Linked DNA regions of Homo sapiens. The protein of the gene in region 1 purifies or fractionates together with the protein of each later gene. This does not show direct contact. Each region holds a gene or a part of one and is shown in the gene's direction. Other genes may lie near its edges. The genes, in order: DPF2, H1-3, BCL7B, ARID1B, BCL7A, HMGXB4 and SS18L1.

Region 1 (4,263 bases):
AATTTAAACTAGGAGGCGAGTGTCAGGACAGAACCACCAATAATGTGCTCCCAGGGTGGCCAATCAGAGGCAGGAGAGGGCATGGCTGCTTGTGGCATCAGGGCAACCTTTTGGAAGCATGCTATTTGATTTGGCCATGTGGCATGGTGGGGAAAGCATTTCAGGCTAAGGAAATAACGTGAAGCACAGGGGAAAGATATCCCAAAGTATGGAAGGGAGCAGGAGCAGGATTATAGCATGCTTGAAAGGCGTTGGTGAGGAATGAGGCTGGTGTGGGTGGGACCACGTCACAGAGGAGGTTCTGGGTGGCCTTGGCCAGTCTCATCATAGGGGAGCTTTTGGATGCACATATTTCTACCCATGCTAACCCTCCTGTCCACTCAGCGGATCCTAGAACCAGATGACTTCCTGGATGACCTCGATGATGAAGACTATGAAGAAGATACTCCCAAGCGTCGGGGAAAGGGGAAATCCAAGGTGAGGGGCCAGCGTGCTGCCTGCATCTTGGGACAGGGTGGCCTAGGGAATTCCTTATTTTATTTCAAGTGAGATTAGCGGCCACTTCCAAAAGAGTCTAACTCCTCAGGCCCAGCTACCAAAATAAGGGTGTCTCTTTGCTCTTCTTGGCAGGGTAAGGGTGTGGGCAGTGCCCGTAAGAAGCTGGATGCTTCCATCCTGGAGGACCGGGATAAGCCCTATGCCTGTGACAGTGAGTGCCTCACAAGTGGGTGGGTAGACCTTGCCTTGGACCCAGCTCCTGCTCTGGATATGAGAGGAGGGAGGGTTGTGTTTTTGCCCAGAGTATTAAAACAAACCTGGGCTCTTGTCCTGCCTGCTGACTGCTTCCGTCTGAGACCCCTGGGAGGCCTGGGTCCCTGCTATATGACGGGTGGGACCTGCATGCTCTGGGAAAGATTTCTGCCATCCTCTGGGGTAGGGTTGCTTGTGGGGGCCACAGCAGGCAGGGTTGGCCTCTCAACAGATGGCCTGCAGGTCTCCTGGCCTCAGTTAAGCCAGGGCCCCAGGGGTCTGACACTGAGTTTTTCAACGTCTGTTCTCTTTTTCTTTCTGTCTGCCTTGCCCCACTTCTGTCCCTCCACCCTGGGAGCACCATCGCCGCTGGGGTTTCTCTCTCGTTTGCTCTGCTTTCCTGCTGCTGCTGCTCCTGTCTCAAGTGTATCAAGGCCTTCTTCTCATGACTTTTCTTTCTGTCTTTCAGATAGTTTCAAACAAAAGCATACCTCGAAAGCGCCCCAGAGAGGTAGCTCTCTCAACTTTTCAGACTTGTGGTTTTCCTTTCCCTTTTTCCCTCTTCCCTTGTTCCTCCTGCCTTTCTCATTTCCTGGGATGCTAGCTTTAAAATCTCTGGAATGGCATGGGGGTAGGAGCAGTGGAATTTCTGCTGTGCTCTACTCCTCAAAGTCCTGAAGGCTGCCTTTACCACTGCTTGTTTCCCACAAACCTGCTCCTAGAGCTGCTCGGCCCAGTGCATGGGGTGGCTTCAGAAGCATTATCAGGAGCCCATTACAATCAGACCCTTCCGCTCCCTCCCCAGACCAGGCAGCTGGTGGTCAGCTCATGTTCCCCACTGCCCCACCACCTCCTCCTGCCATCCTCTCTCCCCACTCCTTTCCTGCTGGCCCCCTTGCCCTTCTTGGTATTACTTCTCAAGATGACAAAATGCCTCATGGGGATCTGCTTTCCTTGCTGATTGGCAGGCCTGGACAGGGCAATTACATGGGAGTGTGCTTGAATTTCTTTGGGGACCAACTGCCCAACTGGCTTCATTGATAGGCTATCCCCAAGAAACCCATCCCCTGCTTGTTTACCCACATTCAGGGGAGATGGGCTCCATGGTGTGTGGGGTAGCATGAGCCTCCCACATTTACTGAGGGGTAAAAAAGTTTGGAGTCTTATCCACTTTTCCCCCTTCCTGCCACCCCAAAGATATAGGAATATCCTTCCCTTTCCTGACCTGGAGCGTCCCAGACTGTTAGTATATCCCAGAGCAACTAACTGGTGATGGGGCAAGGGCTAAGCCCCCCAAAAGTCAACATGGAAGAGCAGTGGTGGCCATGGGGTTGGAGTTCAGGAGGGAAAAGAGCCCCAGAAGCTAGAGAGCCCCACGGCCTGATGCTCCTGGCTGAGGGGAAGTGGCCGTCACTCAAGGCCTGTCCCAGAGTGGAGCTGCTAGGGGAAGGGATGGTTGCCCTCTGCCTCAGGTGGAGCCCCCACAGCTTGCAGGGATGGGGACATGGCACTCTTGTATCCTAACACCTTTCTCTGCAATCTTCTTCCCACTCAGTTTGTGGAAAACGTTACAAGAACCGACCAGGCCTCAGTTACCACTATGCCCACTCCCACTTGGCTGAGGAGGAGGGCGAGGACAAGGAAGACTCTCAACCACCCACTCCTGTTTCCCAGAGGTCTGAGGAGCAGAAATGTAAGCTGAGGTGTCAGAAGTGGTGGGCAAGCAGAAGTTGGCCTGGTTATGAAAACCACTCCTTGCATGGGTGTTGAGTGGCTCAGGGACCCCCATGGGTGTCATCAAAACTCTTTCTCTCTGTAGCCAAAAAGGGTCCTGATGGATTGGCCTTGCCCAACAACTACTGTGACTTCTGCCTGGGGGACTCAAAGATTAACAAGAAGACGGGACAACCCGAGGAGCTGGTGTCCTGTTCTGACTGTGGCCGCTCAGGTACTGCTTCCCGTGAAGGCTGCTGCTTTGCCCAGTCCCCAAGGGGCTCTTGGCTTGCTGGCCTCTAGGGCTGTCATAACCAGCCCACCTCGCTTTTCCTAACCAAGAGAAGATGTAGCCACAGGCAGGAGCTCCTCTCTTCCCCCCGCATTTCCGACTGTCTGTCTCACTCACTTCCCCCACTACAGGGCATCCATCTTGCCTCCAATTTACCCCCGTGATGATGGCGGCAGTGAAGACATACCGCTGGCAGTGCATCGAGTGCAAATGTTGCAATATCTGCGGCACCTCCGAGAATGACGTGTGTATCCCCGCCCCCTCCTCAGCATGGCTCCTTCTGGGCTTTTACTGCTGTTTGCACAGTTCCCTCTAAAGTGAGCTTTCTTTTAAAAAGGGAGCAGGATCCCTCCCACATGCCACACGCCCCTCCCTAGCATCTCAGTCAGAACTCTGATTTGTTGCCAGATATATATTGAGTGCTGATTTTATGTCAGACACTGTTCTAGTCACTAAAGATGCTAAAGACAAACAAGGTCCCTGCCTCATGAGATTTACATTCTTACAGGAACAACAATAAGCAAGGATGTAAATGAGATTTGTATAATGTGCCATGAAAAAAACGAAATCAGTACTGTGGCAGAGAATAATTGCATAAGTGATTTATTTTGATGGTCAGGTATGGCTCTTCTGGGAGGGTGATGCTGGTGTTGAAATTTTGGTGATACCAAGGAGCCAGTCAAGATTTGGAGGTAGAGGAATCCCAGGAAAGGAGCAGCCAGCGCCAAGGCCTTATGTTGGACAAGCCAGATGACAGGGCATGGGAGAGTATGGTGGGCAATGAGATGAGAGAGGCAAGCACTGCCAGATCTCTGGGGCCTCGGGTTTTATTCTAGGTACAACAGGACACTGTTGAAGGGTTTTACTCGGGAAGTGACATGGTTATTTATGTATTTATTTATTTACTTTTTTTTTTTGAGATGGAGTCTTGCTCTGTCGCCCAGGCTGGAGTACAGTGGCACAATCTCAGCTCACTGCAACCTCTGCCTCCTGGGTTCAAGTGATTCTCCTGCCTCAGCCTCCCAAGTAGCTGGGATTACAGACACGTGCCACCACACCCGGCTAATTTTGTATTTTTAGTAGAGATGGGGTTTCTCCATGTTTGCCAGGCTGGTATCGAACTCCTGACCTCCGGTGATCCGCCTGCCTCAGCCTCCCAAAGTGCTGGGATTATAGGCGTGAGCCACTGCACCCAGCTATTTATTTATTCTTTATGTATTTATTTATTTATTTTGAGACAGAGTCTCTCTGTCATCCAGGCTGGAGTGCAGTGACGCGATCTTAGCTCACTAAAACCTTTCCCTTCAGGCTCAAGCAGTACAATCCTCCCACCTCAGCCTCCCGGGTAGCTGGGACCACAGATGCACACCACCATGTCTGGCTACTTTTTTATATTTTTGGTAGAGACAGGGTCTTGCCATATTGCTGAGCTGGTCTCAAACTCCTGAGCTCAAGCAGTCCTCCCACCTTGGCCTCTCAAAGTGCTGGGATTACAGGCATGAACCCAC
Region 2 (3,328 bases), on another chromosome or scaffold:
TGGCACTATCTTGGCTCACTGCAACCTCCGCCTTCCGGGTTCAAGCGATTCTCCTACCTCAGCCTCCCAAGTAGCTGGGATTACAGGCGTGTGCCACCATGCCCGCCTAATTTTTGTATTTTTAGTATAGACAGGGTTTCACCATGTTGGTCAGGCTGGTCTTGAACTCCTGACTCAGGTGGTCTGCCCAGCATGGCCTCACAAAGTGCTGGGATTACAGGCGTGAGCCACTGCGCCTGGCCAAGACAAGCTAAGTAATTTTTATGAAATTAGTTGAATGAGGAGAGATGACATCTTTAAAGTTGATTATTTTATCTAGGATTTATATGAAAAAATCCTCTAATCACTATTGAGTGTAGGCCAGAATAACTTGATTTTTTGAAATGAGTATTTTTGTTAGAAGAAACATAACATCAAACTACTTCTCTTGTTTCTTCAACATAGGAGTTCATTTCAGCATCTGATTACTTGATGGAGAATATCAATTTTGTGCTTAATTATTTAATAATAACCTAATTCCATCAGCTGTATTGCAAACTAACAGATAAAGAATACTGAAGTTACTCATGTTTGCTTTGAAATGTTTGTTCAGCTCCTTAGGTGGACATATTCAACCAATTAATTTAGGGTGTGACAGCTTAGTTCATATTTTGTGTGTAAAAAGCCAAGTAGAATGATGAAAATTTACAGTGATTTAAATCAGATATTTTTCTTTCTAACCCTTGATGCCCACACTTGCAATGTTGAAAATTTGTATTTTATTTTTTTAAAGTGACTTTTACCAGTTATTCAAACAGGTTGTACAGAGAAAGAGGAAGGGAAATTTGTATTATAAATATGATTTTAAAATATAAAAAATGTACAAAATTCTATGATGAATATTAGCAAAAAAATAGTGTATTTCATTAAATTATTTATAAAGTGATGGGACACAAACATGTACACAAGCTCTCAATGCTCACAGTTGCCAAAATGATGTTGGCCTGCCATTCTATTATTTGTTGGTTCAGTTTTCTTTTTTGGGGATGTGGTAGTTGATCTTTAATGCCCATTCTAGATCGGAAAAATCCATGATCCTAACTTTTAAGAGAAGGTTGGTAACTCTACTTAGGACTTTTTTTTCTGTAAGAGGAATAATGTAGCCTCACCCTTATCTTTCTGGAAATGTTTAAACCACTGAAATATGGAGATCAAATCCAGCTTACACACTGGTAACTCAAATACTATTTTTTTTTTTAAACTATCTTTTCTAAACTAATCACCCCTCTTGTACATAGAACTTTCTACCTCAGTGCCAATTCCTAGAGGTTGATGCAAACAGCTCGCCAGAGAGCCTGTGCTATTGTTCCTGCGAAAAAACCCAATTTCCCTGCACATTTGGATAAAAATGAGTTTATCTATATAAAGTTGAGACGGTAAGAATTCACAGAACAATGCCCTGGAAGAGAGATTTGCAAATGAAAGAGGGAGAAATAGTATTTTTAAGGAAAACATGAAAGTTGTCTCGATTTGACCGAAGTTTGAAAGAGAGTTGGGGGAATAAGAAAAGTTTCAAGATGCCGGTTTTAAAACTATGCATAGAAACAAAGGCAGGAATGAAGCCCGAACTCTCTCGGATCAGTTTCCCCCAAGTCTCTAATTATTTCATGCCCAGATTTCTTATATTTTTACTCTTTTTTAAGGGGCAACAAACACAGCAGCGCGGTAGATACGAGGAGTCCTTTTCCAGCAGCGCCGCGCATGGAGCAAGGAACCAATCATCACTCAGCGTCTCTCTATATAAACCCTCAGCCTCCCTCGTAGAGGACATGCTGTTCTGACAGTTTGAGATTACTTATTGTCTTTTCTGGGAAGACAAAAACATGTCGGAGACTGCTCCACTTGCTCCTACCATTCCTGCACCCGCAGAAAAAACACCTGTGAAGAAAAAGGCGAAGAAGGCAGGCGCAACTGCTGGGAAACGCAAAGCATCCGGACCCCCAGTATCTGAGCTTATCACCAAGGCAGTGGCAGCTTCTAAGGAGCGCAGCGGCGTTTCTCTGGCCGCGCTTAAGAAAGCGCTTGCGGCTGCTGGCTACGATGTAGAAAAAAACAACAGCCGTATCAAGCTTGGCCTCAAGAGCTTGGTGAGCAAAGGTACTCTGGTGCAGACCAAAGGTACCGGTGCTTCTGGCTCCTTCAAACTCAACAAGAAAGCGGCTTCCGGGGAAGGCAAACCCAAGGCCAAAAAGGCTGGCGCAGCCAAGCCTAGGAAGCCTGCTGGGGCAGCCAAGAAGCCCAAGAAGGTGGCTGGCGCCGCTACCCCGAAGAAAAGCATCAAAAAGACTCCTAAGAAGGTAAAGAAGCCAGCAACCGCTGCTGGGACCAAGAAAGTGGCCAAGAGTGCGAAAAAGGTGAAAACACCTCAGCCAAAAAAAGCTGCCAAGAGTCCAGCTAAGGCCAAAGCCCCTAAGCCCAAGGCGGCCAAGCCTAAGTCGGGGAAGCCGAAGGTTACAAAGGCAAAGAAGGCAGCTCCGAAGAAAAAGTGAAACTGGCGGGACGTTCCCCTTTGAAAATTTTAAACGGCTCTTTTCAGAGCCACCCACAGGTCTCAGTCAAAAGAGCTGAAGCTTTTTGGAGGGGGGAGTGGGGTGGAGAGGGGTGCGGGTGCTGCGGTGTTGTGCGGCCACGGTCTATCCTAGTCGTGCTGGTTGGGGGTCAGTTATTAACAGCTCCCAGCAGCCTGGGCGCAAGGATCCTTCCGTCTCAGTCTCAGCCACAGTCACCGGATAGCTAAGGCTACTTGAGCCACCAGGTCCTACTTTTTCTTCAAATTCCCGCGGTGGTGTGTGATTGGCCGGCCGATTTCTGTTAAAGCGCGGCGCTTAAAAGTGGCCCTGAAAAAATTTTATTTCTGACACAGGGATGTGGTGTAAATGCTTTAGTTTACTTTAGCGTTGAGGTGACTTCCTGAGCACATCCCGTCCTGGTTGTGAGCAGTACGTGGCATGCCCAAGGTGCTTCCGGCCCACGATCTTGTGCAGCTGGTCGTTGAGAATGGCCAACTGCTGGTGGTGCCCGGTGTCTGTCTTTTCGCAGGCCTTTGATAAGCCTTAGCTTTGGGATATCGGCCCTCAGGTACTGTATTTGTAAATAGTGTGGGGGCTGCACTGCGTGACGAGGTGGCTCTCCTGTAATCCCAGCATTTTGGGAGGCCGAGGCGGGGGCATCACGAGGTCAGGAGTTCGAGGCCAGCCTGAAGAACATGGTGAAGCCCCATCTCTGCTAAAAAAAAATACAAAAATTAGTCAGGCGTGGTGCCGCGCGCCTGTAATTCCAGCTACTTGGG
Region 3 (4,263 bases), on another chromosome or scaffold:
ATCTTTCTTGAAACAAATGTTATAGGTAAAAATAAACATGGGGTGATCATTTTGTTTTTTGGGTTTTTTTGTTTGTTTCTTTTTGAGATGGAGTTTCGCTCTTTCGCCCAGGCTGTTATGAAGTGGCAGAATCTTGGCTCACTGCAACTTCCACCCCCCAGGTTCAAGCGATTCTCCTGTCTCAGCCTCCAGAGTAGCTGGGATTACAGGCACATGCCACCATGCCAGGCTCATTTTTGTATTTTTATTTATTTATTTATTTATTTATTTTATTTTTTGTTTTATTTTATGTTTTTTTAGATGGAGTCTCGCACTGTAGCCCAGGCTGGAGTGCAGTAGTGCCATCTTGGTTCACTGCAACCTCCACCTCAAGCAATTCTCCTGCCTCAGCCTCCCAAGTAGCTGGGATTACAGGCACATGCCACCACACTCGGCTGATTTTTGTATTTTTAGTAGAGATAGGGTTTCACAATGTTGGCCAGGCTGATCTTGAACTCCTGACCTCAGGTGATCCATGCGTCTTGGCCTCCCAAAGTGCTGGGATTACAGGCGTGAACCAGTGCGCCCGGCTGGGGTGGTCGTTTTGAATGGATGAGGATGACGGATCAGGAATAGAGCCAGCCTGGGCCCATTTGTCCTGTCACTGTCTGTGTTACATGAGGTTCCTTCTTCTCTCACTTTTTCCCCACTCTGCTACTGAAACAGGAATCTTTCTCAAATGAGTGTTTTGTATTTCTTGCCCATTCGTATAGAGAAGGGTTGCCTGGCGCAATTTGATCAGGGCAGGAGAGGGATACTATGGGATGTTCTAGTCGAAGTGTATGTATCTGCCTGTTGCTTATGATTCACAGTATTCCTGCTGGAAGGGTTCATTTTTCTGAGGCTTGAGGAGAAGTTGCTTGTCCAGGATTCTGTTCTTCCTTGGGTCCTTGGATTCTCACGCTGCTGTCGTTTTTCCTGTTCAGTCCTAATCCAGACCTCTGTGGTCTGTCACATAGCACCCTCCTCCCTCTCTGTGAGTCTCCTGCTTGGCTCTGTCATATTCCTCTTTTTTTCCTTTTCTAGAAAGAAAAGTCAAAATCGAACAGTTCAGCAGCCCGAGAACCTAATGGCTTTCCTTCTGATGCCTCAGCCAATTCCTCTCTCCTTCTTGAATTCCAGGGTGAGTTGCATCTCTGTGTCTTCCTTGCAGGAGAATGAAAACTTGGATGAATGCATTAATAAGAAGAATTGGCCAGGTGCAGTGACTCACACCTGTAACCTCAGCACTTTGGGAGTCTGAGGCGGGCAGATCACCTGAGGTCAGGAGTTCAAGACGAGCCTGGCCAATATGGTGAAACCCAGTCTCTACTAAAAATACAAAAAGTTAGCTGAGCGTGGTGGCGCGTGCCTGTAATCCCAGCTACTCGGGGGTCTGAGACAGGAGAATCGCTTAAACCCAGGAGGTGGAGGTTGCGGTGAGCCGAGATTGCGCCACTGCACTCCAGCCTGGGCTGCAGAGTGAGACTCCGTCTCAAAAAAAAAAAAAAAGAATTCTGTGTATCAATTCAGTGCCTGCTGTTTCGCTGGTATTTTGCGAGGCACTTGACCTAAATCTTTTCATTTAAACTTCACGATAACTCTGCAAGATAGGTAATGGTATTCTCATTTTCCAGTTAAGGAAACTGAGGCTCAGAGAGGTTAAGTTACGTGTCTAAAGTTACATAACTTGTAAGTGACAGACTCCATGTCAGGTCCTGGTTGTCCGAATCAGAAGCTTTTTTTTAGATTGTACTTCATTTTTTATTTTTTATTTTTTGTAGAGACAGAGTCTGGCTATGTTGTCCAGGCTGGTTGTGAACTCCTGGCCTCAAGCAGTCCCCCAGCCTTGACCTCCCAAGGTACAAGCATGAGCCACTGCACCTGGCCTAGACTGTATGTTTTATCATAGTCGCTTAGAGTAGGCTACCCAAAGCCGAAGCTTCTGCTTACCCACTGTTAGGACATGTTCTGCCTCCTAAACCAATCCCGCCGGATCATCACCGTAGTCATGATACTGCCTTTTACACCTACCTGCTAGGTACTGTCTACGAAGCACTTTTACTTTACTTTCTCATTTTTACCCATGTATCAGCCTGTGATATAAACCAGGCAGTTATTATCATCCCTATTTAAGGAAACTGATGCTCAGGGAGGAACAGTGTTTTGTCTAAGCTCAAAAGTGACAGTTTTATTCATTTGGTGACAAAATGCTACTTCCATTTTAGTGTGGGTATTAAAGGTCTTTATAGGAGTCAAGACTAGCATGAGTTTATGACTTTCTCTTCAAAACCAGATTGGAGCTAACCCAGCGTGTAGTTATTCCTTCCCCACCTCTTTCCCAGGCCCCACCAAGGTCAACCATGTGCTGTTGGAAAGGGAACACCAACGTGTGTTCAGTAGTCAGAAGGCTCTGGGAGACATATGAGGCTCCATTTCCTCAGTCTGGCCACCATCTCCTCCTTTTCATTTAGTAAACACTTAATGAACTCCCACTGTATGCAGGTACCGTGCGTTGCACTGGGGAGTCAAGGACAAGTGAGCCACAGAGCCTGTCCACAGAGGCTCATGGGAGGAAGCACGTGTGCGAAATGATAAATGCAGGCGTGCACAGGCTATCACAGGAGAGTAAGAGAGGGTGGGCATTTCCACCTATGCGAGCCAGGGAGGTAGGGCTCCGCGGAAGAAGTGATGTCGGGGCTGTGTTGGGAGGTCTGAGGCTTTCCAGGACAAGAGAAGGCAGCCTAGCCAAGGAACAGCTGGGCAGAAGCACCCATGCATGACGAAGCTCTTGGGTTAGGGTCCAGTCTGCCTGGAGCTGAGGATGCTTGTAGGAGAACAGTAGGCACTGAGGCCAGAGATCAGAAAGGACTTCCTATGTTGCGATAAGGCCAGCTCCTGCCTCTCCTAAGAAGTACTGGGTATGGCTGGGCGTGGTGGCTCATGCCTGTAATCCCAGCACTTTGGGAGGCTGAGGCAGGTGGATTACCTGAGGTCAGGAGTTCGAGACCAGCCTGACCAACATGGTGAAACCCCGTCTCTAATAAAAATACAAAATTACCCAGGCGTGGTGGCGCAAGCCTGTAATCCCAGCTACTCAAGAGGCTGAGGCAGGAGAATCAGTTGAACCCAGGAGGCAGAGGTTGTGGTGAGCTGAGATAGCACCATTGCACTCCAGCCTGGGCAACAAGAGCGAAACTCGGTCTCAAAAAAAAAAAAAAAAAAAGTACTGGGTATGACATTTCTCCCTTAGGCAGCAGTGGAGCGTCGAAGGGTTTAGAAAGGTCTCTCTGGCAGTGGTTTGCAGTTCAGTTTAAGGTACGTGAGACTGGAGGCAGGGCAGTGAGGTATGTGGCTGTTGCAGGAGGCCAGGCTGGAGATGATGAGGCTTGAACTGAAGCAGTAGGAGAGGAAGGAATGAGCACAAATGATACCAGAGCAGGAGGGGGAAACACTTTGGTGACTGGCTACTGTAGGTGCAGCGGAGGAATGCATTGGTGACTCTTACTTTTTTTCTTTTTTTTTAATTTTAATTTTTATTTTTTGAGACGGAGTCTCGCCATGTCACCCAGGCTACAGTGCAATGGCACGATCTCAGCTCACTGCAACCTCCACCTCCCGGGTTCAAGCGATTTTCCTGCCTCAGCCTCCCAAGTAACTGGGATTACAGGCGCGTGCTATCATGCCCGGCTAATTTTTGTATTTTCAGTAGAGACGGGGTTTCACCATGTTGGCCAGGCTGGTCTCAAACTTCTGACCTCAAGTGATCCGCCCACCTTGGCCTCCCAAAGTGCTGGGATTACAGGCGTGAGCCACTGCACTCGGCCTGGTAACTCTTTTTTTTTTTTTTTTTTTTTTTTTTGAGACAGAGTCTCGCTCTGTTGCTCAGGCTGGAGTGCAATGGCGCGATCTCGGCTCACTGCAAGCTCTGCCTTCTAGGTTCATGCCATTCTTCTGCCTCAGCCTCCTGAGTAGCTGGAACTACAGGTGCCCACCACCACAGCCGGCTAATTTTTTGTAATTTTAGTAGAGACGGGGTTTCACCGTGTTAGCCAGGATGGTCTCGATGTCCTGACCTTGTGATCTGCCCACCTCGGCCTCCCAAAGTGCTGGGATTACAGGCGTGAGCCACCGTGCCTGGCCTCGGCCTGGTAACTCTTAAGTTTTGCACCTTGATGGTGACTTTAAGCCTTCAGGCAGAACTCCCAGGTGCTAATCCGTCAGTCCGGCAGCCGAAGCCTGAGC
Region 4 (3,500 bases), on another chromosome or scaffold:
CGTGGCGTGTGATGATGTCCCTTAAATCAGGTCTTTTGGCTGAGAGTACGTGGGCTTTGGACACTATTAATATTCTTCTGTATGATGACAGCACTGTTGCTACTTTCAATCTCTCCCAGGTAAGCCAGCATAGTCCAACTAACAACCAAATTAGGATAGGAGAGCATCAGGCCATGCACATTTGTGCTTGAACTAATGCCTGAGTTGATGAGCACTGACCGTCCAACACTGTTAATCACTGCAGTTGTTATCAACCAGCCTTAATCAATGTAGAGTTATCTGGGATAATATTCACTGTAGTCTTTAGTGTGTGTACACACACATACCTCTATTTCTTATGAGAGAACAGTGACTGTGTGTGTATGTGTATATGGGATAGATGACAGTAGTAACATTAAATTGTTCAGAATGAATATTAGCTGGCCAATGGGAAGAAATCAAAATGTAACATTAAGTTGTGACTGGAGTCAGCATTGGAAACACAGTTGGTTGCAATGGGACATAACCCTGCTTTCCAGGAGGACTTGACATCTTCTTTTCATTAAAAAGATATTCAAGATTTAGAAATTTTATATTCTATACATTTATAGAATGTATAAATATATATAGAAGGAGAGAGAGCAGTTTAATGAACCCCCATGTACCTGTCAGTCAGCTAAAATAGTTATGAACTCATGGCTAAACTTACTTCTTAGTCTATGCTCTCTCATTTCTGCCTCTCTCCAGGTTATTTTGAAGCAGTCATGTAAAAGCCTACTACTTTTAATGAGCTTAAACCCCTCCTTTGTTCAGAGGTAGGCTTCAGGTAGCTTCCAGCATAATAGCTAGAAGAGAGGAGCACTGAAGTTTGGGGAAAATGCCCGAGTCCACTGGGCTATAGACTTTTAAAGAAATATTTAGAAATAAAAAATGGAAAAAGGTCATTTTCCCTATAGTATACAAACAACTCTCTACTTTGAGTGCAAAAACTAAAACACTTAATTTCCTTGCTTCTAAGGAAATAAGACCAGAATCTTCTACTTCTTTCTTCTCTCATTTAAGCCCTCATTATCAGCCTAGAAAGGCAATTTTTCAATTGCTAGAAAGTTTATTAATAAGGTCATAAACATTGTACGAGTTCTGTGTTAACAGAAAATAAGTATTTAAAAACTGTATACTGCATTTGCTAGAGTAATGCGCTTTCATCCTTATGTTAGGTGAACTGTTGTTGATCACATATTTGCATAACCAGAATTGCTTTATTAACTTTCCCTTTTCCCCTGGAAAAAAAAGGGAAAATGCCCTTGGAACATTGTGCCTTCAGCACACTAAAAGCAGTTCTTTCTAGTTGGTGCTGGGGGCTTCCCCTGACTTCTTAAAAATTGTTCCAACTCTACTTTCAAGAAACTGACAGTAGGATATGAAGGTATAGCTGATTTCCAGAACATCTACCGGGAAAGAATCCTTGTTAGAATCCTTGTTACTTACTCTTTAGAGTTCCTAAACATGGTGGGGGGTGTTGGGAGAGAGGGCAGTTGCTAATCGTGAAGTGTATTGGTTTTTTCTTGGTACAGTTGCTTAAAGGAAACCAAACTTGTTCTTGTAGTCAGTGGTTCTCTCATAGTGGTTTTTGCCTTTCAGCTAGAGTCATAAATAACTGAAATGTAAAATTGCATTTTATGAAACATTTTAATTTATTTATCATAGGCTAAATTGATTTGTTTTTAATTTTCAGTGTTCATGAGCTACCACATTGCTGAAATTATCTTCTCCAAAAGATATATAGAGAACATAAATTAGGGTGACCTATGGTACCTGAGACAAAAATAACCATAAAATCCTAAGAATAACAACCATAAAAATCCCGGCAAGCAAGTCTCAGATAAATAATAGAAGAGAACAGAGTCACTTTGGGCAAAAGAGTCTATAAAATCCATGTTCCCACTCTTCTAATAATGAGTACATTGTCTCTAAATCAGGAACAGAAAGGTAAAGAACAGCAAGGCACTCCCTCAGTGATAAGATTAGAGATATGAGAATAAAAAGTAAGTTTTCGTGTAGATAGTCTAAGCAAGGAAGCAGCAAATAAGGAACATGCTAAACATCGGTTTAGTTTATACTGTAAAATTCAGGAAGTTCGCTGGACCTGAAGGGTAGTTTATCTTTCATGGTCCAGCCAAAAAGGGAGACAAACGTGTGACAATGATGGAAAGGTATTGACGGGTCTCAGGATCTTTACCCTCCTCGGTCATATCTGATGTCATGACATTGTACCTGTTCTTTCTTTCTTCTCCTCCTCCTCCTCTCCAGTTGTCTGGATTTCTCGAACTTTTAGTCGAGTACTTTAGAAAATGCCTGATTGACATTTTTGGAATTCTTATGGAATATGAAGTGGGAGACCCCAGCCAAAAAGCACTTGATCACAACGCAGCAAGGAAGGATGACAGCCAGTCCTTGGCAGACGATTCTGGGAAAGAGGAGGAAGATGCTGAATGTATTGATGACGACGAGGAAGACGAGGAGGATGAGGAGGAAGACAGCGAGAAGACAGAAAGCGATGAAAAGAGCAGCATCGCTCTGACTGCCCCGGACGCCGCTGCAGACCCAAAGGAGAAGCCCAAGCAAGCCAGTAAGTTCGACAAGCTGCCAATAAAGATAGTCAAAAAGAACAACCTGTTTGTTGTTGACCGATCTGACAAGTTGGGGCGTGTGCAGGAGTTCAATAGTGGCCTTCTGCACTGGCAGCTCGGCGGGGGTGACACCACCGAGCACATTCAGACTCACTTTGAGAGCAAGATGGAAATTCCTCCTCGCAGGCGCCCACCTCCCCCCTTAAGCTCCGCAGGTAGAAAGAAAGAGCAAGAAGGCAAAGGCGACTCTGAAGAGCAGCAAGAGAAAAGCATCATAGCAACCATCGATGACGTCCTCTCTGCTCGGCCAGGGGCATTGCCTGAAGACGCAAACCCTGGGCCCCAGACCGAAAGCAGTAAGTTTCCCTTTGGTATCCAGCAAGCCAAAAGTCACCGGAACATCAAGCTGCTGGAGGACGAGCCCAGGAGCCGAGACGAGACTCCTCTGTGTACCATCGCGCACTGGCAGGACTCGCTGGCTAAGCGATGCATCTGTGTGTCCAATATTGTCCGTAGCTTGTCATTCGTGCCTGGCAATGATGCCGAAATGTCCAAACATCCAGGCCTGGTGCTGATCCTGGGGAAGCTGATTCTTCTTCACCACGAGCATCCAGAGAGAAAGCGAGCACCGCAGACCTATGAGAAAGAGGAGGATGAGGACAAGGGGGTGGCCTGCAGCAAAGATGAGTGGTGGTGGGACTGCCTCGAGGTCTTGAGGGATAACACGTTGGTCACGTTGGCCAACATTTCCGGGCAGCTAGACTTGTCTGCTTACACGGAAAGCATCTGCTTGCCAATTTTGGATGGCTTGCTGCACTGGATGGTGTGCCCGTCTGCAGAGGCACAAGATCCCTTTCCAACTGTGGGACCCAACTCGGTCCTGTCGCCTCA
Region 5 (4,263 bases), on another chromosome or scaffold:
GACTTTGTAGAAACTTGGCTTTGAGGTTTTTTGTTTTTTTTTTTTTTTGGCCCCTTCTAAGCGAAAGCCTTGGACTTATTGCCCAGGTTTCTCTGGCCCCTGAGAAGCCATATCTCACCTTCCCCGCGCCTTCGGATTGGGTCTTAGACTCAGCCCATGAGACTGTGGGTTGTTTATTAATTGTGTGGTCACCAACCATGCATTTCACCACTGGTGGGGGGGTGGGGTTGCCAGGTTTAACCAGATAAAAATACAGCACACCCAGTTAAATTTGAATTTCAGATAAACAATGAAAGATTTTTTTAAAAATAAATGTTTTTGAGTATGTCTCATGCAATATTTGGGACACACTTATACTAAAACATTATCTAATTTATCTGAAATGCAAATTTAACAGGGCACCCTGTATTTTACCCAGAGGGAAGCCGAAGTGTTTGGCAGATCATTTGGCCCCATGAGCCTTGGGTGGGTTTCTCCTCAGCCCTAGTGACCCCTAAAATTACCCCCCCGACCCACCCACTGTCCCCTGATGCTTCCCCCACCCCCGGAAAAAGCTGTGGCCTCCCTCTCATTTGGGGCAGGCTGCCTCCTGTTCTCTTTTTCTGGTGTTTCAGCAAGGCAGGCCAGTGGAGGTGAGGTGACCAGAAGATGGCTAAAGGGAAAACAAAATGGTGGGCCTCTTTTTGGGAAACTGGGCCAGGGTTTGGGGGCCCTGTGCTGGTGGAGGAGAGAAGACCCCAGGGCGATGGTAGGAGACGAAAGCTTGGGCTGCAGCGTAAGCTTGGAGGCCCGCTGCGGTGGCTCACGCCTGTAATCCCAGAGCTTTGGGAGGCTGAGACAGGAGGATTGCTTGAGCCCAGGAGTTTGAGACCAGCCTGGGTCTCAAACCAAAAAAAAAGAAAAAGAAAAAAAAGAGCCGGGCGCGGTGGCTCACGCCTGTAATTTCAGCACTCTGGGAGGCCGGGCAGGCGGATCACGAGGTCAGGAGATCAAGACCATCCTGGCAAACATGGTGAAACCCCGTCTCTACTAAAAAAATACAAAAAAATTAGCCAGGCGTGGTGGCGGGCGCCTGTAGTCCCAGCTACTTGGGAGGCTGAGGCAGGAGAATGGCGGGAACCCAGGAGGTGGAGCTTGCAGTGAGCGGAGATTGCGCCACCGCACTCCAGCCTGGGCAACAGAGCGAGACTCCATCTCAAAAAAAAAAAAGAAGAAGAAGAAAAAAGAAAAATTAGTCTGGACGCAGTGGCTCATGCCTGTAATCCCAGCACTTTGGGAGGCCGAGGCAGGCAGGTCACCTGAAGTCAGGAGTTGGAAACCAGCCTGGCCAACATGGTGAAACCCTGTCTCTACTAAAAATACAAAAAATTAGCTGGATGTGGTGGTACACGCCTGTAATCCCAGCTACTCTTAAGGCTGAGGCAGGAAAATTGCTTGAACCTGGGAGGCGCAGGTTGCAGTAAGCCGAGATCGCGCCACTGCACTCCAGCCTGAGCAACAGAGCAAGACTCCATCTCAAAAAAAAAAAAAAAAAAAAAAGAAGAAAGAAAAGAGAAAAGGCCGGGCACGTTGGCTCACACCTGTAATCCCAGCACTTTAGGAGGCCGAGGAGGGAGGATCACGAGGTCAGGAGATCGAGACCATCCTGGCTAACAGTGAAACCCCATCTCTACTAAAAATACAAAAAATTAGCCGGGAGTGGTGGCAGGCGCCTATAGTCCCACCTACTTGGGAGGATGAGGCAGGAGAATGGCATGAACCCACGAGGCAGAGCTTGCAGTGAGCCAAGATTGCACCACTGTACTCCAGCCTGGGCGACAGAGCGAGACTCCGTCTCAAAAAAAAAAAAAAAAAAAGAAAAAAATTAGACAGGCATGGTGACCCTCGTCTGTAATCCCAGCTACTCAGGAGGCTAAGCCTGGAGGATCACTTGAGCCCAGGAGGTTGAGGCTGCAGTGAGCTACGATTGTGCCACTGTACTCTAGCCTGGGTGACAGGGTGAGACCTTGTCTCAAAAAACAAACAAAAAAAGTAGGCTTAGGCCCAGGACCCCTTAGCACCTGGTCTGAGGGTTCCCTCAATGACTTGCTGTGAGGACTGAGAAAGGTCTGTGCCTGAAGAGCTCCCGTCTGTCCCAGGAGAGGTAGAGGTTTGGGCCTGAGGCCTCCCTCACCTCAGCTCCTCCAGAGGTTTCATCATGGAGACATTCCTACTGGGCACATGGCAGGTCAGGCAGACCTGGGCCTAGCTAGGGTGAGGCCAGCCATGGGCCAGGCCTCTTGAGGTGACAGGGACTAGCCATGAGGAGTGAGTACAAGGACAGGGAGTAGAGCTTTCCTGGAGGGAGTCAGCAGGGTCCCCTTGAGTGGTGGGTAACCCTAAGATGGTCTTGTTGGCTAACCCTTGGACCTGGACACAGGAGAACATTCGAAATTGGCCTTAGCCTGGAGAATCTGGGATGGATTCTTGTAGTTTATATAGGAGTCCGTGCTGGGGAGGAGCAGTTGGGGCTATATTCCTACTGCTGGGACCTCATTTTTTCCTTTCCTCCCAGAAGCTCAAGTGTAATGGGAAGGGAAAGGTGTTGAAGTCAGGGTAAGGTGACGGGGCCGCCAAGACAGGAGGCGCGGGGCACACCCAGGGCCAGCTTTGCAGCAAGTTGGGCTGCAGCCTGGTGGTTGTGGGGATTTCTGCACCTGGTGCTTACAGGTGTCAAGAGTGAGGGCATCTGAGGGGGGCCAGAGAGCCCATCTGGGGCAAGCTGTCGCTCCCTGGGGCATGTGGGCCCAGGTCATGTTTTCAAGAGTAGCCAGAAGTCTGGATTCTTATGCAAAGCCTGTTTTGTTGTTTGTTTGTTTGTTTGTTTGAAGTTTGGCAGCAGATTTAACATTTTTAAAGTACTGTGCAGGCCAAACAAAACACGCCTGTTGACTGGTTGTTTGCCATCCTAAATATAAAGTGGGGCCCATGTGTGGTGGCTCACACCTGTAATCCCAGCATTTTGGGAGGCCAAGGCAGGAAGATCACTTGAGCCCAGGAGGTCGAGGCTGCAGTGAGCAGTGATCGCACCACCGCACTCCAGCCTGGGCAACAGAGGGAGACCTTATCTCAAAAAAATAACAAATAGGCTGGGCACAGTGGCTTATACCTGTAATTCCAGCACTTTGGGAGGCCAAGGCGGGTGGGTCACCTGAGGTCAAGAGTTTGATGTCAGCCTGGCCAACATGGTGAAACCCGTCTCTACTAAAAATACAAAAATTAGCCGGGCGTGGTGGCATGTGCTTGTAGTCCCAGCTACTCAGGAGGCTGAGGCAGGAGAATCGCTTGAACCCGGGAGGCGGAGGTTGCAGTGAGCCGAGATTGTGCCACTGCACTCCAGCCTGGGCCACAGAGCAGGAGTCCGTCTCAAAAAAATAAAAAAAATAAAAAAATAAGAAAGTGATGAGTATAGCTTAATACCCTCATTGGGGAAGAGGAGCAACGCCCTTTTTTGGGGAGGGGTATGTGTTCTGTGGTGATGGTTTTGGGGGGCAATTGTGGGAAACCTCAGCTGCTCCGCTGAACCCGTGTGCCCACCCAGTGTGTCTGTGGCTGTGAAATCCCATGTCCTCCTGGGTGCTCACTTGGTGCCTTAAACTTGAGCTCCATGGCCCCTCCGGGTGGCTGCTTAGCTGAGCATAGGTCCAGCTCAGAGGTAGAATTCTTAATGTTCTTGCCTCTGTCCCAGAGTCCCCTCAATGTCCACACCTAGAAATACAGTTTCTCATCACTGGGGTAACTTGAGAACTCGGTGAAGAGGTTGCCAGTTGGGGCAAAGAGAGGCACGAAAGCCTGGCTGCATTCAGCTTGTAGCCTGCGGTGGCCTCGAGCCTCGCTGGGAAGCAGCTGCAAACTTGCATCTTGGCTGATTTGCGGCCGCAAAGCCCAGATCTCTGGCACACTTTCTGCCCTGAAAGGTGTCCTGTGTGTTACAAGTCAATTACTTTTTTTTTTTTTTCCCAAACACAATCAAACCTTGAATGGGTTGATTTACTGGGAAGCTGGTCCAGGGCTCATGAGTAATGAATGGCTTTGGCCAATCTGCATGGAGTCCTGGCAATTTGTCATTCTTCCTCCAGCTTCTGTTACCCTGGCGCTCCTTTAGAATGATTCTTGGTTTTCATGGCCAACAGAATAGCAGGAGGTGGTGTCTGGGGTCCGAGCCCAAATCTAATTCTCTTCTGCCACTTCCTGTCTGTGAGACCCCAAGCTAGTGGTATAACC
Region 6 (4,263 bases), on another chromosome or scaffold:
TTTCTCTGAGAATATCTTTTATTTTAGATTGGAAGTGAAAAGAGACCAGAATTGGGGAGAAGTTAAAACAATAATCCTAGTCTAGATGTGACAAAGATAAATTAGCTATAAATAAATATAGGGCAAAGGAAATGGAACAATATTACTAATTACTGACATTTTTGGGGTTTTAGCTATTATCTTCCCTGTATACTAATGTTTTATTGAAGGCTCACTCACCCAGCTTTGGTTCAGAGTGCTTAATATGAATTATATCATTTAATTCACACTGCAGCTTTGTGAGGCAGAATTTGTTCCCCCCATTTTACAGAAGAATAAACAGACTTAAAGAGGTGAAGTCACTTTCTCTAGAGTTTAGCCCCTAAGTGGTAAAATAGAGACTTGAATTTGGAATGTGACCTCAAGGTCCGGGTTCTTAACCTCTTACTGTACTGCTGCCCTCAGAAAGTATAGGGGGGAGATGTTGACAAGGAGGATGAGGGAAAGGAAGAGTCAGTGATGGCTAGGCCTTGAGACTGGGCAGTTATGTGAATGGTGGTGACTTTGGCAGAGAAATGGATGCTCAAAGGAGGGCTAGATTTGCATGGGAAGGTTATTCTTCCTTACAGGAAGTTGAGATGGAGAAATATCCAAAAGGAGAGACCCAAAAGACAGCCAGAAATGCAGTTTTGAAGATCAAGATGTTGGTAGTAATATTCATAATTACTGATATTTTTTGAGTACTTAACCATGTATTAAGCACCATCCCAAGTATATTATATCTATTATCTCAATCCCATCTGCTGCAGATGCTGTTAGTATCTTACAGGCACAGCATAGTAAGCAACTTGCCTAGGTACAAAACAGTGAGTAGTGGAGCCAGGATCTGGACCCGGGCAGTCTTGAATCCGGAGCTCATTTTCTTAAGGACTGTGCTGTGTTGCTTCCCAATATGACATATTCTCACACTGCTTCTAGTTAAAGCAGATTATACAAGAACTCGGCAGCAGCAACAGTCTTTCTTATCTCTTTGAATCACAAATAGACAATATGAATTACATAAAATGTTAAAATTTGAACCAAATTCACTTTGAGAGTGAACAACTCAACCTAGAAAAATTGTATAATCAGCTATCAAAAGCTACATACATGCAGGGTTGTAGGATTCTCATAGTAATCACATCTGAGCTATATTTGTCGAGTTTATAACAGATATACTTTGCATACATAATCACAAATCTTACCAACAGCTCTCCAGAGTAGGTAAAGCATTTTTTACTGTTCCTGTTAAGGAGACAGAAGTTAAGGATGTGAACTCCCCAAGGTCACTCAGAAGGTAAGAAGATGGGCTAGGATTACGGAAAGGGAACATGGGAATGTGCTGTAAAAGTTTTCTTTCTAAACAACTTACAGAGTTATCAAAGTAAACTTTCCATTTCTGCTGTAAAGTTTCAAATTATAAGAGTAGAACTGCCTAGGATTTAAAGTACTGTGTGAGGAAGTCAGCCGGAACACAGCATCAGGAGTGTGACTCAAGCAACAACCTCCTCTCCTTTTCAGGGTATGGTGGCTGTGTCTGGCAGTTTGTCAGTGCTTCTGGATTCCATTATCTGTGCCCTTGGCCCCTTGGCATGTCTCACCACACAACTACCTGAATTGAATGGCTGTCCCAAACAGGTCTTGGTGAGTTTTCCCTGGATTTTTAGAGTCAGATCCATTGGGCGTCAGAGATGCCCTGCCTTAATGAGCACTGTCAGACACACATAAGGCTTTGTGACACACAGTGCTTCCTTCATCTGTTGGCCCATGGAACATGATGCTATATTATCAAATGCATGCTGTACTTTCACTGAAACTAGAAAACAAGCCATTTACCAAAACAGTACTTAAGAAAGCAGCATTCTAGCCCTTGAGGTACTACAATTCCTGTGTTTCCTGTTTGCTATTCTGCACCCAAAGACAGTACAGGAATTGTTTCCCTCTTTTTTACGAGGATTAATGGGAGAAGTCAGCAGAAAAGTTCCTAGCATAACAAACAGCAGGATGCCGTCTTCATTCTCACCTGTTTTTCTAACTCCATTTGATTTTTCTTATCTCTCTCCTTGAACAAAGAAACATCTCTCAGGAAACCAAGGTACAGTACTCTTCAGTTGAACATTTTTCTTTGTTTTGCAGTCAAACACATTAGACAACATTGCTTACATCATGCCGGGACTGTGACAGCAAAGAATCCTGGGACAGAAACCTTATCCTACACCATTGCTGGTTTGTGTATATATGACTGTTGCAGATTCCTTCAGTGGCCTCTGGCTGTAGGTTTTAAATTTTTATATCTATACATACATATATACATATATATATAATGTACAATATATACATAGACTGTAACTACTTTGCTTTTAATAATTTTATGAAATGGCAAAGGTTTAGCCAAGAGGAAATTTTGGCATGAATACAGGCTTGGGATTCTTTTTTCTCCTGTGGTGGATAAATCTGCCTTAAAAATCAATGTAACTTGGGGGCTGGGGGCTTGTTCTGGGTGCCAAGCGCATCTCTTTATGGACAGCTAAAATGTGATTATTTTCCAAGCTCAGTTGGACCTCCAGACCCATCACTGACCATTTGCCTTACCTGTCTTAGTCTGAAATGTAATAGGAAAGATAACGGGAAGATGCCAGTTGACTGAAAATTCAAAGCCTTTCAATTTGAAGTGACCTAGGTGGGAGGTGATAAAATTTGTTCCCTTTATAGTTATGGAAGTGGCTTAGGTGAATTGAGTAGAGGGTTCATTCCAATTCCTACTGTATAGGTGTCTGTGTCTCAAAATTTATTGTAATCATTGGTACCATTGGTGGCCTCAACAGAGGCCAAGGAGTTCTGTGAGCCCTGGCAGCAAAAAACACCTTGGGGGGTGAAGCTGTCAATGCCACCAGTTGGACCTCCATACATTCTGAGCTAACCCAGAATCTTTAGTCGGCAGAATTAAGTGCTGGTGTCTTTCACTGGCAGCATGAAGTTAGCCACCAAGTCCTCACAAGCCGTGCTGCTTAGTTGCTCGGTGGTTATGGATAAACTTTGCCCAGCATGATTTTTGGGTTCATCTTATCAGTTCCCCTGGTGGGCAGATACACAGTGTTCTGCATTCCACATGTAAGTGAATTGCAAAAACAAAACAAAACTCACTCTCTTGTAGGTTTATTTATGTGTGTGTGAATGTGTATTTTAATTATGTGTATTTAACTCTTTAAAATCTCTTAGATTTTAATTTATCCTGTAAATTTCTGTATATATAATTTAATAACAGAAGCCTCCACCAGCAACAGCATGTGGAAGATACAGATTTGTCATTTCTCCCTTCCGCCCTCCCTTCTTTCCTTCCTTCCTTCCCTGTTTCCTTCCCTCTTTCCTTCCTTCCTCCTGGTCTGTTCCAAAAACTCTGAATCATCTACATTTTAAGGTATTTTACCTCAAAAATGAATCATTGTGTTAGGATTCTAATTCTTTATAAAGAACTTCATGGGCTTCAATAATGTCTAGAAAGTAAAATAAAGAGGAATGTTACCATCCCCAGCTGCCCTTATTTCCAGAGAACCAGACGTTTGTTTCCCAGTTGGAAAGAAGACAGTTGAGCACTTCAGGATGGTTTTTAAATTTGGTATGAGATTCTCTGCCAACACCAAGCTCTGAGTTAACTGTGCTTTCTTCTCCTGGCCCTGACAGAGCACTACAGCATCAAAGTAAATCTTTGGGGACAGTGTAGCCCATCTGCATCCTATTTAATTTCTTCCCTTCTCCCCACCAGTGTTGTCACAGGGCTATGTTGCTTAAAGGTAGTCTGGCTGCTGAATCCCTTTCTCAGCTCAGAGCAGTTTTAAGATTTAATTGGGAATACAGAGAAACAGGATTGTTTGAGAACCAAAATCAAGAGGAACAGAAATCTTAACTTGATTTCATGTGTTAGAACATTGTACCATGCCTCTTCTGTATCTGTGGAAGTTTCCTGTTTGACACAGGGTATCTAGGAGGGGCGGGGAAGACATGGATAGTATAGGAAGACATTAATCCTAGCATTGTCATTTATATACATTAATGAAATCCTGATGAGGACCTGCTTTTTGTTTGTTTTCCTTTGAAACCCAGCCCTATTGTATTTGTATTTAAAATTTGTACACATTTGTATAATAATCTGTACCTTGTGGTATTTGGTACTATTAGAGGAAAAACTTTGGATTCAGACCTTCTTGCAGTTTTTATATCATTGTTTTATTTTGTTTTTTAAATAAA
Region 7 (4,263 bases), on another chromosome or scaffold:
TCTGCTGTCCCCGAGGAGTCAGTGTTGGGGGCAGGGGCGGCAGTTGTCATTAAGAGTGTCACAGGCCGGGCTCATGCCTGTAGTCCGAGCACTTTGGGAGGCCGAGGTGGGCGGATCACCTGAGGCCAGGTGCTCAAGACCAGCCTGGCCAACATGGTGAAACTCTGTACTAAAAATACAAAACATAAGTTGGATACGATGACAGCGTGGGGTGTTCTCCTCGGGTGGGTGAGGCCATTCAGCAAGGCCTTGGCTTCCCCAGTGAGCGAGCAGGTCCTCTGAGGGAGGAGGGCGCGGCCCGCACTGGCGCTGAATGTGGTTCCCCCGCAGGCTCTTCCCAGCAGTACCTGGGCCAGGAGGAGTACTATGGCGAGCAGTACAGCCACAGCCAGGGCGCCGCGGAGCCCATGGGCCAGCAGTACTACCCCGACGGTGAGCACTGGCGGCGGCCTGACCCCGCCCAGGAACGCAGAGCAGCTGCAGGGGCAAGGAGGGCAAGGAGGGCAAGGAGGGTGTGGCCACTGCAGTGTGTCCTCAGTCATTCCAGCTCAGGCCTGGGCTACAGGCAGAGTGGCCAGACGCCCTGCAGGAGCAAGGTAGGGGATGGGGTGAGCTGGGCTGGCAGTGGTGCCTGGCCTCTGCAGAGAGAAGCTGTGGCACACACCGCTGCACTGGCCTCCACGCGGCCTTGCCTCTACTTCCTGAAAGGCTGTGGGAGTTGGAGGCGGATAATTGTAGCTCCTAGCTGTAGATAGGTGGAAATGTTCAAGAAGGCGCCTCCCAGCTTCACAGAGAATGCCCTGAAGGTGACGGCTCCACCTGCAGCACCTCTCCTCCTGCACCTTCTCATCTCTGCAGAGTATTTTACCGTCGTCACCTTTCAGTCTTTGCATAGTCCCAGGGCTTGTGGAAGGGATACTGAAAGTGGTCTTGGCTGAAAACAGCGGTTCACACCTGTCATTCCGGCACTTTGGGAGGCTGAGGCAGGAGGATCGCTTCAGCCCAGGAGGTTGAAGCTGCATTGAGCCATGATCGCACCACCACACTCCAGCCTTGGTGACAGAGCAGGATCCTGTCTCTAAATAAAGTAAAAATAACAATAAAATAAAGTGGTCTTAAAGGCTGGATTGATCCCTGGGAGGCATCCAGGCAGGGAGCTGGCCTCAGCCAGCAAGGGGCAGGTGCACAGACAGGTGGGCAGGTGGCAGCAGGGCAAGCCACCCTGGCCACGTGATGGTCACATGCAGCGAAGGCCTCGGTAAGGGTTGGACACCCCTGCCTGCGTCCTCCCAGGAGCTAGCGGTGGCGGGGAGAAGGCAGTCGGGTCACTAGCATGGCTGTGTGGCAGGCACTGAAAGCGCTGATCCTCTGCATAAATCCCCAGGTAGCTTCACAGTCGCCCCGAGAAGGAGGCATTGATGTCTGCATTTCAGTGGGGAGGCCGAGGCTCAGGAGGTTGGGGCATGGTTTTGGGGAACACGGGTCCTGCCGGCTCTTGTTGCCTCCCTGGCCAGACAACATCTCCCCAGCCTGGGTCTCAGTTGCCTCCTCCGGGACCTGTGCAGTGCACAGCCTCCGCTGACTGTCGCCGTCTCCGTTTCGCACAGGCCATGGCGATTACGCCTACCAGCAGTCATCCTACACGGAGCAGAGCTACGACCGGTCCTTCGAGGAGTCCACGCAGCACTACTATGAGGGGGGTAAGGAGCACGGCTGCGTGCTGGGCTCGAGCGTAAGCGCCACACGCAGCAGAGTTAAGACGCTGCACCCTTAGGAGCACGCGGTGCCTGCCTTCAGTGAGTCCCTTAAATCACAGCACAGCGCGTGGGAGGAGAGACAGTGTGTTCTGGAAGCTGGAAATTCAGGCTGTGTCGGGAGCCCCGCTTGCCTTATGGGTGTGTTCGTGAGACAGGAAAGGATTCAGCCGGCCATGCTGGGGTTGGGGGCACAGACTTGGTTATTGGGTCCAGCCAGGGAGCGTGGGGCCTGCGACAGGAAGGATTCAGCCGGCCATGCTGGGGTTGGGGACACAGACTCTGTTATTGGGTCTGGCCAGGGATCGTGGGGCCTGCGAGCCACTCTCAGAGCTTCCTCAGCTGGAGGCCAGCAGTGGCTGCGCTGGGTGTGGCCTCGCGTTTCTTCAGACACCTGCAGGCCAGGAAACGCACATCTGTGGCTGGGGGCTTGCCGCCCTTCATGGCGGTCCTGGGCAGTGCTGCGCTGGGGGCTGCGTGTCGGGTGGACTTGCCCCTTTCTGTGGTGTCTGTGCCCCCACCCTGGCTGCCCTGAAACCCCAACAGAACATCCCAGAATGTGGAGTTGGGAAGAGGTACACACAGCCCGTTCCAGTCCCACCCCGGGATAAAGATGGCCCCCAGAGAAGAGCTGATGATCGCCTGCGGGATTGCGCAACCTCGTCCGGGAGGGAAGGCGGGCCTGCAGTCCCTGGGGAGAGGGGCCTCGTGTCTGCTGACGCTGACCGGCAGGCAGCAGTGGCTGAGGCCTTCCCACTGCAGGGCTGCAATTTATCAAGAGGTAACAGTGTTGGTGAGGCTTCACCAGGTACACAAAGCAGGCAGGCACTAAACGGCTACAGATTTCCTTGTTTGGGTTACTTCTTAAAGAATTGGATGTGTAAAGGTTTTGCTTCTGAGCTTACACATCTCAGCCTGCTGTGAAGAAATAAAGCACGCAAGTGTAGGCACATATAGAAACATCACGGTGTGCGCTACGAATGCCTGCAACGTTGAAATGTCAGTTACACCTTTGTAAACCTGGGGGAAACAAAAAGTACATGAATACATAATGAAAGTTTAAAAGAAGAAAGAGCCTAGGTGTTGTGGCTCACGCCTATAATCCCAGCACTTTAGGAAGCTGAGGTGGGTGGATCACCTGAGGTCAGGAGTTTGAGACCAGCCTGGCCAACACGGTGAAACCCCGTCTCTACTAAAAATACAAAAATTAGTTGGACGTGGTGGCATGTGCCTGTAATCTGAGCTACTCAAGAGGCTGAGGCAGGAGAATTGCTTGAACCCGGGAGGTGTAGGTTGCAGTGAGCTGAGATCATGCCATTGCACTCCAGCCTGGGCAACAAGAGTGAAACTTTGTCTCAAAAAAAATAAAAAGAAATAAAAAAAAGAAATGGCCAGGCATGGTGGCTTACGCCTGTAATCCCAGCACTTTGGGAGGCCAGTGGAGGAGGATTGCTTGAGCTCAGGAGTTTGTTTGTTTTTTTTTTTTTTTTTTTTTGAGACGGAGTCTCACTCTGTCGCCGAGGCTGGAGTGCAGTGGTATGATCTTGGCTCACTGCCACCTCCGCCTCCCAGGTTCAAGCAATTCTCCTGCCTCAGCCTCTTGAGTAGCTCGGATTACAGGCCCCGCCACCACACCCAGCTAATTTTTGTATTTTCAGTAGAGATGGGGTTTCATCATGTTGGTCAGTCTGGTCTCGAACCCCTGACCTCATGATCCACCTGCCTCAGCCTCCCAAAGTGCTGGGATTACAGGCGTGAGCCACCGCGCCCGGCCGAGCTCAGGAGTTTGAGGCCAGCATGGGCAACATGGCAAAACCCTTTCTCTCCCGAAAAAAAAAAAAAAAATGCCGGGCGTGGTGGCGGGTACCTGTAATCCCAGCTACTCAGGAGGCTGAGGTGGGAGAATCGCTTGAACCCAGAGGCAGAGGTTGCAGTGAGTTGAGATTGCACTACAGCACTCCAGCCTGGGTGACCGAGCCAGACCCTGTCTCAAAACAAAAGCCACCCTGTGGCCAGCACCCAGAGGCTATCTTCTGGCATATTGGCTGCAGTGGTGCCTCCGTAAGCCCTGGGAGTCAGCAGGATCTCTGCCATCATGGGCCTGGCCCTGTCCCTTCCAGCTGGAGCACAGGGTTCAGCCTTGTCCATGGCGAGGTGTCCACATGCGTCTGCCCAAGGCTGCCACACTTTGTCCCAAAAACAAACGCAGGATGTGCTGCTCAGCCTTTTAGTGTCTGATGTAGCTACTTTTTTTTTTTTTTTAAAGAGACAGGGTCTTGCCCTATCACCTAGGCTGGAGTGCAGTGGCCTGATCGTGGCACACTGCAGCCTGGAAATCCCAGGCTCAAGTGATCCTCCTGCTTCAGCCTCTCGAATTGCTGGGACTAAAGGCATGCACCACCAGGCCTGGCTTTTTTTTTTTTTTTTTTTTTTTTAATTTTTGTAGAGATAAGGTCTTGCCATGTTGCCCAGGCTGGTTTTGAACTCCTGGGCTCAAGTGCCACCTCAG

Evidence for each region.
Region 2: the proteins of DPF2 (region 1) and H1-3 purify together in Homo sapiens (affinity purification with mass spectrometry, with the first as the bait; one large-scale study listed by BioGRID). This does not show direct contact.
Region 3: the proteins of DPF2 (region 1) and BCL7B purify together in Homo sapiens (affinity purification with mass spectrometry; 4 studies listed by BioGRID and IntAct, with this or other methods). This does not show direct contact.
Region 4: the proteins of DPF2 (region 1) and ARID1B purify together in Homo sapiens (affinity purification with mass spectrometry; 9 studies listed by BioGRID and IntAct, with this or other methods). This does not show direct contact.
Region 5: the proteins of DPF2 (region 1) and BCL7A purify together in Homo sapiens (affinity purification with mass spectrometry; 5 studies listed by BioGRID and IntAct, with this or other methods). This does not show direct contact.
Region 6: the proteins of DPF2 (region 1) and HMGXB4 purify together in Homo sapiens (affinity purification with mass spectrometry, with the first as the bait; one large-scale study listed by BioGRID). This does not show direct contact.
Region 7: the proteins of DPF2 (region 1) and SS18L1 purify together in Homo sapiens (affinity purification with mass spectrometry; 4 studies listed by BioGRID and IntAct, with this or other methods). This does not show direct contact.

The regions. Positions count from the first base shown.
Region 1 is NC_000011.10:65,343,361-65,347,623, forward strand, and holds part of DPF2 (zinc finger protein ubi-d4), read left to right. Parts: intron 1-384; coding exon 385-477; intron 478-630; coding exon 631-709; intron 710-1,219; coding exon of another isoform or gene 1,220-1,261; intron 1,262-2,305; coding exon 2,306-2,443; intron 2,444-2,569; coding exon 2,570-2,698; intron 2,699-2,886; coding exon 2,887-2,999; intron 3,000-4,263. UniProt on the Homo sapiens protein: Plays an active role in transcriptional regulation by binding modified histones H3 and H4. Is a negative regulator of myeloid differentiation of hematopoietic progenitor cells. Might also have a role in the development and maturation of lymphoid cells.
Region 2 is NC_000006.12:26,233,468-26,236,795, reverse strand, and holds H1-3 (histone H1.3), read left to right. Parts: upstream 1-1,808; 5' UTR 1,809-1,862; coding exon 1,863-2,528; 3' UTR 2,529-2,584; downstream 2,585-3,328. UniProt on the Homo sapiens protein: Histone H1 protein binds to linker DNA between nucleosomes forming the macromolecular structure known as the chromatin fiber. Histones H1 are necessary for the condensation of nucleosome chains into higher-order structured fibers.
Region 3 is NC_000007.14:73,540,447-73,544,709, reverse strand, and holds part of BCL7B (B-cell CLL/lymphoma 7 protein family member B), read left to right. Parts: intron 1-1,065; coding exon 1,066-1,162; intron 1,163-4,263. UniProt on the Homo sapiens protein: Positive regulator of apoptosis. Plays a role in the Wnt signaling pathway, negatively regulating the expression of Wnt signaling components CTNNB1 and HMGA1.
Region 4 is NC_000006.12:157,203,878-157,207,377, forward strand, and holds part of ARID1B (AT-rich interactive domain-containing protein 1B), read left to right. Parts: coding exon 1-119; intron 120-2,289; coding exon 2,290-3,500. UniProt on the Homo sapiens protein: Involved in transcriptional activation and repression of select genes by chromatin remodeling (alteration of DNA-nucleosome topology).
Region 5 is NC_000012.12:122,024,430-122,028,692, forward strand, and holds part of BCL7A (B-cell CLL/lymphoma 7 protein family member A), read left to right. Parts: intron 1-4,263.
Region 6 is NC_000022.11:35,291,453-35,295,715, forward strand, and holds part of HMGXB4 (HMG domain-containing protein 4), read left to right. Parts: intron 1-1,539; coding exon 1,540-1,662; intron 1,663-2,154; coding exon 2,155-2,199; 3' UTR 2,200-4,263. UniProt on the Homo sapiens protein: Negatively regulates Wnt/beta-catenin signaling during development.
Region 7 is NC_000020.11:62,163,815-62,168,077, forward strand, and holds part of SS18L1 (calcium-responsive transactivator), read left to right. Parts: intron 1-330; coding exon 331-432; intron 433-1,607; coding exon 1,608-1,700; intron 1,701-4,263. UniProt on the Homo sapiens protein: Transcriptional activator which is required for calcium-dependent dendritic growth and branching in cortical neurons. Recruits CREB-binding protein (CREBBP) to nuclear bodies.